Linked DNA regions of Homo sapiens. The protein of the gene in region 1 interacts with the protein of each later gene in a pairwise test. Each region holds a gene or a part of one and is shown on either strand. Other genes may lie near its edges.

Region 1 (4,237 bases):
GATCTTTATGTCATAGCTTGATTGTCATATGATGATATAAAGATCAAACAGCAATTAATTTCCTCAACAGTCAATAGCACTTAACAATTCATAACTCAGAATTCTGTTCATAGTTTATGGTAAAGGATAATAAATTTAAATAGGTTTCCTAAGAACTTGGGTCTCAATTATAATTAGTTAAGTTGGGGTTCTTTTCCTGCTAGGTAATACGTGACAAGCATATATATTTTTATTTATTATTTACACTAATGTTTTGAATGGAGGCAGAACATTTGCTTAACTAAACCCAAGAGTTGCCTTTATAAAATAAATATAAAGAAAGCCTTAGCTTTAGGAATTTTCTAATAATTCTCTCTGGAATTAGTAATGCAGAGGAAAGACACGAGGACAAGTGTATTTGCTGTGTCTTAGTTTGGTTCCTGTGATCAAGCCTGCATTCTCTGCTAGTGATTATTTGCTTTCTGTCCCAATGCCCAAGTGATATGCCTGTTTCTCTGGGGGAAGAGCCAAGAGGTTCTTTTGAATGAAAGATCCAAATAAACACAAGAACAATCTATGGAATGTTCTTTTCTTCTAACCAGGAAAGCACTACGGGGTATACAGTTGTGAAGGCTGCAAAGGGTTCTTCAAGAGGACGATAAGGAAGGACCTCATCTACACGTGTCGGGATAATAAAGACTGCCTCATTGACAAGCGTCAGCGCAACCGCTGCCAGTACTGTCGCTATCAGAAGTGCCTTGTCATGGGCATGAAGAGGGAAGGTGAGACACATTCAGTTCCAAAACTCGTGTCCGGAGAGAGGCATTTCCTAGGCAAGGGGACATTCAACTGCAATACACGAGAAGTCATGGTGCCCAAAGTCATCCTAATCTCCACTTCAAATTTCTTTCCCACAGGGCTCTAAAGAGAAGTCTGAATAGGAAATTAGGATGACTTTGGGTACTCGTGTATTGCAATTGAATGTACCCTTTTCCTAGGAAGTGTGTCTCTCCAGAGCAGAGAGGGCAAGAGGCATCTTCCTCCTCCACATTTACCCATCCTCTTCTGGAGCCCAGATGGTGATCCCCAAACTGGACCGTCTCCTTTTTTCTTCCAATAACCAGGCAGCAAGTCTCAGAGCCAAGGTTTCAGGGTCCTTATGATCTGCTCTACCAATGGATCGTCAGACTGACCTTCAGGGTGGAGGTGACTTTTCTCCTCTAATCCTAGGTCTCTCTCTGGGGCAAACTGTAGGTTTCATTTCACTCACTGAGTTTTTTTTACCTGGGTCTGCTATCAAATCTTTGATATTGGTATATTCCATCATCTTTTGGCATTACTGGCATTACACAGGTTTGACAGACCTAACCTTCCCATTCAGAGAGACCACCACTGTGTGTTGAAACCATCACATCTTTTAATTTATAGTGTGGTTTAGCTGGGTATTCTAGTATGAGAGAAAAAAACCTCAGAAGGTGCTTTCTGTCCCGTTAGTAGACAGAAAAGACTTTCCATTAAGTATCACAGATAAATTGAAGTGGGCAGTTAATTAACTAGTGAGCTCAAGCAGGGACATGGGGATAGTGGTGAATCTTAATAGATTTTAGAGTAAGAAGGTCCTGCCTCTCTTTAGGAAATAAGAACAAGGAGTTCAGTCAGGCCCAGCACGCTCCTCATTCTTGAGGAACTTCTTTTCTGTGAGAAGAGGGCATCTTACTGAAAGGGTCAATGAAGAGGGGCTCTTTGTGTCCCTGCTAAAAGTGAATGTCACCCATGAGCAAACAAATTCTTGTAATCTTAACATGTCAAGATGCTAGAGGTGGCCTTACAGAGTCACCTAATCAACTGTAACCATCCGCCAGATGAGAAAACAGGCTCACAGAGATGAACGGAGTTTCCTGAGGTGCCAAAGGCAGTTAATGAACTGACCCCAGGTCTCTGACTTTCAGATCAGCCCTAGTCTGTGTCTCCTTCCCTGCCAGGTTGTGAAGGAACTGAAGATGGCCCTCGCTGTGACATTTAACAGCAACCTCAAAAGTGAGAGACCCAAATCTCAGCTCCTGAAAATCTGCCCCACACCCCAGCCTGTTCCTCACACAGTCTTCCCCTTTCAGGAAATGGCCACTTATTTTCCAGTTGCTCAGAACAAAAACCATTGACTCCCCTCTTTTTTCACACACCACATGTAGCGGGTGAGGAAGTCTTGTCTCTTCCTCAAACTATGCCCAGAATCTTTCCATGTCTCACTACTTTTACCACTAACCCCCCAATCTAAGCTAACTGTATATTTTGTAGTGATCTACACAGCATCCTAAGACATCTCCCTGCTTCCATCTTTGTCCTCCTACAGTCTCTTCTTAGCACAGTAGCCAGAGGGAGGCTTTGAACAAGTAGATTGGGTCAAGGTGTTCCTTCAGCAGAATCCTCCAATGTCTTTCCTTCTCACCCAGAAAAAAAGGCAAAAATCTTTGTCATGACTTAAGGTTGTACATAGTCTGGATGCCCTGTTGTCTCTCAGCCTCAGCCTTCCTGGCCTCTTTGGTGATCCTCAACTATACCAGAGATGCACCCACCTCAGGGCCTTTGCACTTGCTGTCTGTCTAGAATGATTTTTTTTTCAGGTATCTGATGGCTCACTTTTTCTCATCCTTCGTATCTTTACCCAATTCTCACTTTCTTGGTAAAGCCTTGCCTGGTTATATCATCTAAAATTGCACCAGCCACCCCCAACCCTTCCTTGTCTCTTTTACACAGTAGTTATCATGATCTAACACTTGTACTTATCTTGTTTACTGTCTGTATCCATGAAGGCGGGGGCTTCATCTGCTTTTTTCCCCCACTGCTTTATCACCAGTGACTAATACATTGTAGCCATTTAATAAATTGTTGAATGAATAGTTTAAACTGAATGCTGAAATCAGAAGTTTTAGAAGTGCAGGAGCTCCTAAAAATGACTCATTCATTTATTCATTGAGTATTAGCTGAGTGCCTACTCTGTGCTTACGTCATACTTGCTGTGGCAGTGGGATCAATGATGTTACAGATTGGAGCATGCGATATGAAATACCTGCTGGTGAAGAACATCTTTTTTCCACCAGGATAGAATTGGATACTCCTTGGAGCTTCCCCCACCATGATTATCAAAATGAAACTAATGACTACAAGTATTTCTCCCATTAACAAGAGTCCAGTGACTGCAGGGTCATTTTTTTCCCTCCTAAAACACTTGAGATAAGTTTCCAATTGACTTGGAACAGTAACAGTTTTCATTAAGCACATGATATTGAATTAAAGGAAAGTGAATGGTCTCAGTCAGAGAAACCATCATTTCTATTTCTCTAGAGTTATTCTAATCCATCTCTGAAAATGCAGGCTGAATATCCCCAGCTCAGTTAGGGACAGAGTGGTCAATAGGCCAAATGTTGGGAACTGTGGTTCGTTAAATGTTTTTAAAAAAGGAAGGAAAACAGGGACATGTGAACTGTAAGAGACACTTCTATGGTTTGGGTACTTTAATAGAAAGTTGGACCCAATTTTTGCTCCTGCATTTTTTAAAAGAATGTGGAGAAACAGAAAGAATAGTGAAAAGCTGAGTAGTAAAAATTAGGAGAGGGAAAGGAGCTCTTAGGGAACTTTCTGAAGAGATTGGCACCATTTACCCTGACAAAGGGAAGGCAAAGAAGTGAATCAATTCCTCCGCTGACTATATAAGGGGGCGCATTTCAAAAGGCTACTGGATAGCCTGTCCACCGCCATCATTTCTGGTCTTGATTTATAGAATTTGGGGCTCAGTTTGAACACTTTCTTGAGGACAAGAATAATAACATCCTGGAGCAGATAACAGAGAGACCATGGAAATCACACAGATAAAGAGATGGAATTGGGGTAGGTACAGAATTTACCTGCCTGGGATCAGGGGCCAGGACCTGTTGCCCTTTTAGGATAAATAATGTTAAAGCTAGAGTGGACATTTTCTATTCTCTAACGTAACACGTCCATTTCCTGAAAGACAAATTAGAGGTTTGGAGAGCCTAGCCCACACAAGCCCACACAGCAAGCACATGGCAGACCCTGTATAGGACTGGGACCCTCTGATTAGTGGGCCACCTCAGGAATTCTGGAATGTCTATTTCCATGATTTCTTGTCATATACATGTAGTTTCAAGACTGGTGAATGGATTGCCTTTGAGGCAGTTCATGGGCAGCATTGGTATCCTTGTGAGCCCTGTGTGGTCTTTATTAATAGACCTAGCCCAGT
Region 2 (4,922 bases), on another chromosome or scaffold:
TCTTTATTTCTGAGGATGGAGTCACCGTTTTCCCCTTCTGGCTACACATTTAGATGCATTTCAGGTCTGATGATAGTTGCAATGTAAAAAAGAATAGCAAGGCCTTTGGTTTCTGTAGACAATTTGGACCAGATAACTTCCAGACTGGGTAATATCCGGTTTATTAGTGTTACTGGATGGGAAGTCTTGACTGAGTTGTCTGGGTTTTTGGCGTGTTGAACAAAGAATTGAACAAAACGTAGAAACAAAGCAACAAAAGAAGCAACGAAAGACAAAACAACAAAAGAACGAAGTAACAAAAGCACAAATTTATTGAAGCGAACCAAGTGCTTCAAGAGTCCCAATTGCAGTGTTCTTAAGGGTTACTAGGCTAAAAGAATTTGGTAAATCCCTAGGTGCCCTTTACAGTCGTCCAATTGGTTGCACCCTATGAAGGATTGGCCTGCGACCAATCAGAGGCTGAAATGGAGATGGCCGAGGACAATCAGAGGCGATGTGGAAACTTCTGTCTTGTAATCACAGGAGTGAAGGTGTGGCCTGTATGCTGCCTAGTCTTGCCTAGAAATTGCTGCACCTGCTGTTCTTTTGCTTATGCCTTAACCCTTGGTTACCCTAATTCCCTATTCTCTTGCCTCATTAGGTCTTTACCCTGACTAAAAATGCACTCATCTAGCTGGGACAAATCCTACACTGCATTTGTCCCATCTAGATGAGTATTCTAGCAGAGTACATGGCACATGAGTAGGCATTCAAAAATTCAACATACAGTACATTTTGTTACCTATGTGCCAGGTGTCGGGCAGGCTGAGTTAACAGCTGAACAGAAACCTACCTACCCAACGTGCTAACTTCTATACAGCATGGTCGTGCATCCAAATCAAATGGAAAGCGGTATGGGAGATCTGGAAAGGCCTCCTGTGGGTGGCATCTGACTACCTAAATTCCCATCCCAGTTTCACTTACTGACTTTGACACTTGGAACAAGCAGCCTCTCAGTGCCTGTTTTCCCACTGGCAGGTAAATGGGCTAATGACGGTATTTCTGGCACTAGACTTCGTTAATTAATGAAAAGCACATAGAAGAAAACAGCCTGGCTCTCTAAGTGGGCAGTGCGATTCCCAAGGACGGCACTTCGCCTGATAGTCTTCCTCTAGGCTGAGAAGCCAGAGTAAATCCATTTGATTTTCCTACCACACAGTGCCTTCTCCCCAGATGAGTTCAAAGCTTTAAGTCTATCCAGTTCTGTCCAGACGCGTCTGTTCATCTCCAACAGGCCCACTAGAGAGGCGGGTTTTCCAAAGCCTGGCACGGCCCACTGCAGGTGACGCCCTCTGCCCTCCAGCGCCCTCAGGCCTCTGGGGTCCACCCTTCCTCCCCACCCGACTCCGGAACCTCTTCCCGCGCCCTGCCCGGGCGCCTGGCTGCTTGGGGTAGAGGCCTTCCGCCACACGCGCGGCCCCGCCCCGGCCTTCACGTGACCTGGCGTGCGGAGCGCGCACGCGGGAACCCGCGCTGGAGGCGGGCGAGGGCCGAGGGGCAGCTAGGGAGCGCGGCTTGAGGAGGGCGGGGCCGCCCCGCAGGCCCGCCAGTGTCCTCAGCTGCCTCCGCGCGCCAAAGTCAAACCCCGACACCCGCCGGCGGGCCGGTGAGCTCACTAGCTGACCCGGCAGGTCAGGATCTGGCTTAGCGGCGCCGCGAGCTCCAGTGCGCGCACCCGTGGCCGCCTCCCAGCCCTCTTTGCCGGACGAGCTCTGGGCCGCCACAAGACTAAGGAATGGCCACCCCGCCCAAGAGAAGCTGCCCGTCTTTCTCAGCCAGCTCTGAGGGGACCCGCATCAAGAAAATCTCCATCGAAGGGAACATCGGTAAGGAGCCTCCGGAAATGTGGGACGCAAGGCTGGGGTGTCGCGGCAGTGGCTGAAGCTTCCCTTCGCCGCATCTCTCTGCAGCAACTCGGTGAGGGCTTTCCCTCCAGCCTGGCGGTGTGGACGCGGCCTCGGCTTCCTTTCCCACCCAGAGCATCCTTCCCTTACCTCCCGCTCCACGGGGTGACTGCGGTCCCCGGGGTCAGACTGGGCGCCAGGCCTGCGGTCTCTGTGAGGCGCGCTTTGAACCTCTGCTCCCTCTTTGTTGGGAACTCGCAAAGGGAAGCGGGGGAAGGGTATTAGATTTCTTGAGGTGTAACTTACATTAAATTCACCCTTTTTAGGTGTACTCTTCTATGAGGTTTGACAAACATTATGCCTTTTGCTATCACCATGATCGAGATACAGAACATTTTCATCACCTTAGAAAGTTCCTACCTGCTCCTTTGTATTCAGCCCCCTCCACCCTTCCTATTCCCTGGCACCCACTGATTTGATTTCTATCCCTGCAAGTGTTGCCTTTTCCAGAATGCCATATAAATGGAATCATAGGCTATATCGCCTTTTGTGTCTGGCGTCTTTCATTTAGCATAATGCTTTTGAAATTCATTCATGTTACTTGTGTCTGTAGTTTGTTTCTTTTTATTGCTGAGTAGTATTCCATTGCATGGATGTACCATCGTTTATCCATTTTCTAGTTGTGGACCTCAGGGTTGTTTACAGTTTTTTAGCTATATTATTAGCGAAGCATTGTTTTAGCTATATTATTAACGAAACTCGAAACATTCGAGTACAAGCAAAGAGGTCTTTAATGATCTTAATAGCATGGAGTTCCTCACCCCTTACTCCACATCCAAGTAAACATTGGATTATGATTCAAAGACCACTAACGTTTCTGTTAACTCAGATGGGGGGCAGACTAGGCCATGCCTGTCACTTTGCAAGATACACACCAACGTCCGATTCTTCTGTATCTCCAACCACAGGAAACCTACCCCTGAAACTTCCTGTTTTGATAGATTTAAAAAAAAATTTTTTTAGCTCCAGGTTGGGTGCTGGTCATTCATGCATACAGCAAATTTTTTAAAATTCTTACCACATTCAAAGCACTGTACCTTCTTGAAAAAGGCCAGGCAAGCAGATGCTTTAAGCATTCAAATGAATAGAAAAACTGCATTCTCAAAGAGGACTTCTTATTTCATTGCTCCAGAATTAAAGCACCAGTAGAAAGACCATATGATATAATTAGCAATGTAAGTTATTTGAGGGTGCATGTTTACTAGTATGGAATCTCTGACAGCTGCTTACTGAATAAAGAAGACCATATATAAAGACAGGAGAAAGTGGCTGAACAAAGCCATCTGAAAAGTAAATTTGAGGCAGGGCATGGAGGCTCATACTTGTAATCCCAGGATTTGGGGAGGCTTAGGCAAGAGGATCACTTGAGTCCAGGAGTTCCAGATCAGCCTGGGCAACATAGTGAGAACTCATCTCCACAAAAAAATTAAAAAATTAGTTGCATGTGTTGGTGTGCCTCCAGCTACTCAGGAGGCTGAGGCAGGAGGATTGCTTGAGCCCAAAGATCAAGGCCACAGTGAGCCATGATCACACTACTGCACTCTAGCCTGGGTGACAGAGCAAGACTCTGTTAAAAACACAGAAACAAAACAGTAAAGTTGAATGAATAACCCCTCGGATCAATACCACAATACATTCATCCCCTTTCCCTCTCTCCAATCCAGTTAGGTAGCATCATATTTAGAAATATTTCCTCAAAGCATCTTTAATCTTTTCAGCAGCTGAAATAATTTCCTAATATATCATCCCATCTCCAGTTTCTCTTAACTACTTCTGCAACGGTCTTTTTGTATGCAAATGTCATGTGTTATCCCCTGCTTAAAATTCTTCACTGATTTTGCCTTTACCTACACTGAAAGTAGTTGTGAACTGATAGCCTGCAATTGCACAATATTGGCCTGCACAGGTTGAAAAAAAATTTTACTGGCCAGTGGCTCAAGCTTGTAATCCCAGTGCTTTGGGAGGCTGAGGCAGGAGGATTGCTTGAGGCCAGGAGTTTGAGACTAGCATGGCAACATAGTGAGAACTAGTCTCTAAGAAAAATAAAAATAAAATTAGGCCAGGCACAGTGGATCACGCCTGTAGCTCCAACTACTCAGGCGGCTGATGCTGATGTGGGAGGATCACTTGAATGTGGGAGGCAGAAGTTGCAGTGAGCTGAGATGGCACCACTGCACCCCAGCCTGGGTGACAGAGTCTCAAAAAAAAAAAAAAAGCCAGTTGTGTTAGCATGCACGTTTAGTCCTAGCTACTCAGGAGGCTGAGGTGGAGATCTTTGAGACCTATAGTTTGAGGCTGCCGTGAGCTGTGGTTGTGCCACTGCCCTACAGCCTGGGCTACAGAGTGAGACCCTGTGTCTAAAGAAAAAAAAATTAAATTTGTTGCTAACTCGAAAACGTTTTGAGATTTCCCATAAACAATTAGATTCTTGGCTTCTTTTGAAAAATCTGAAGATCTGTTAACACCGGGCCTGCATTTCTGTATGACAACAATTGGTGTTTAGATGGAGCATGTTCCTTGCCATTTTTCGTCTCCCTGACACTGAGACTTTGTTAGTTACTGTTCATTATTGGTCTTGCACTTTTGTTCATGTCTCCTTCACCTTATTTGCCAGATCCAAATAAGCTGTAAATGCACAAATTGTTAAGCTGTGCGTAAACTATTTTGCAATTCCTCTATTTTTCCTAGAATTTGAACTTTACTTGGTCGTTTTAGTTTTATATTTATATAACCCATCTTCTTATGTTCTGTGTTACTCAAATGTTCCCTTATGTTAGATTGATGGAGGACTTACCTGCTTCTCATCTTAATAGTCTGTTCAGAATGACTTTCAGCATTATAATGCCTGCTTGGCATTAGGAATTCTGTTAGTTTCCATGACTTTTTAAAGTATTAACATCAGTGTCTTTGGTTCTTGTTCTCCTTTGCCTTCATAGAAAATTAATTTATTAATTAGCTTATTTTCTAGCTCCCACTTTG

Evidence for each region. Proteins that work in one complex are often made in the same cells at the same time.
Region 2: the proteins of RXRG (region 1) and DCK interact in a two-hybrid assay, tested with the Homo sapiens proteins (one large-scale study listed by BioGRID and IntAct).

The regions. Positions count from the first base shown.
Region 1 is NC_000001.11:165,413,565-165,417,801, reverse strand, and holds part of RXRG (retinoic acid receptor RXR-gamma), read left to right. Parts: intron 1-581; coding exon 582-761; intron 762-4,237. UniProt on the Homo sapiens protein: Receptor for retinoic acid. Retinoic acid receptors bind as heterodimers to their target response elements in response to their ligands, all-trans or 9-cis retinoic acid, and regulate gene expression in various biological processes.
Region 2 is NC_000004.12:70,992,062-70,996,983, forward strand, and holds the start of DCK (deoxycytidine kinase), read left to right. Parts: upstream 1-1,587; 5' UTR 1,588-1,774; coding exon 1,775-1,865; intron 1,866-1,887; exon of another isoform or gene 1,888-1,956; intron 1,957-4,922. UniProt on the Homo sapiens protein: Phosphorylates the deoxyribonucleosides deoxycytidine, deoxyguanosine and deoxyadenosine. Has broad substrate specificity, and does not display selectivity based on the chirality of the substrate.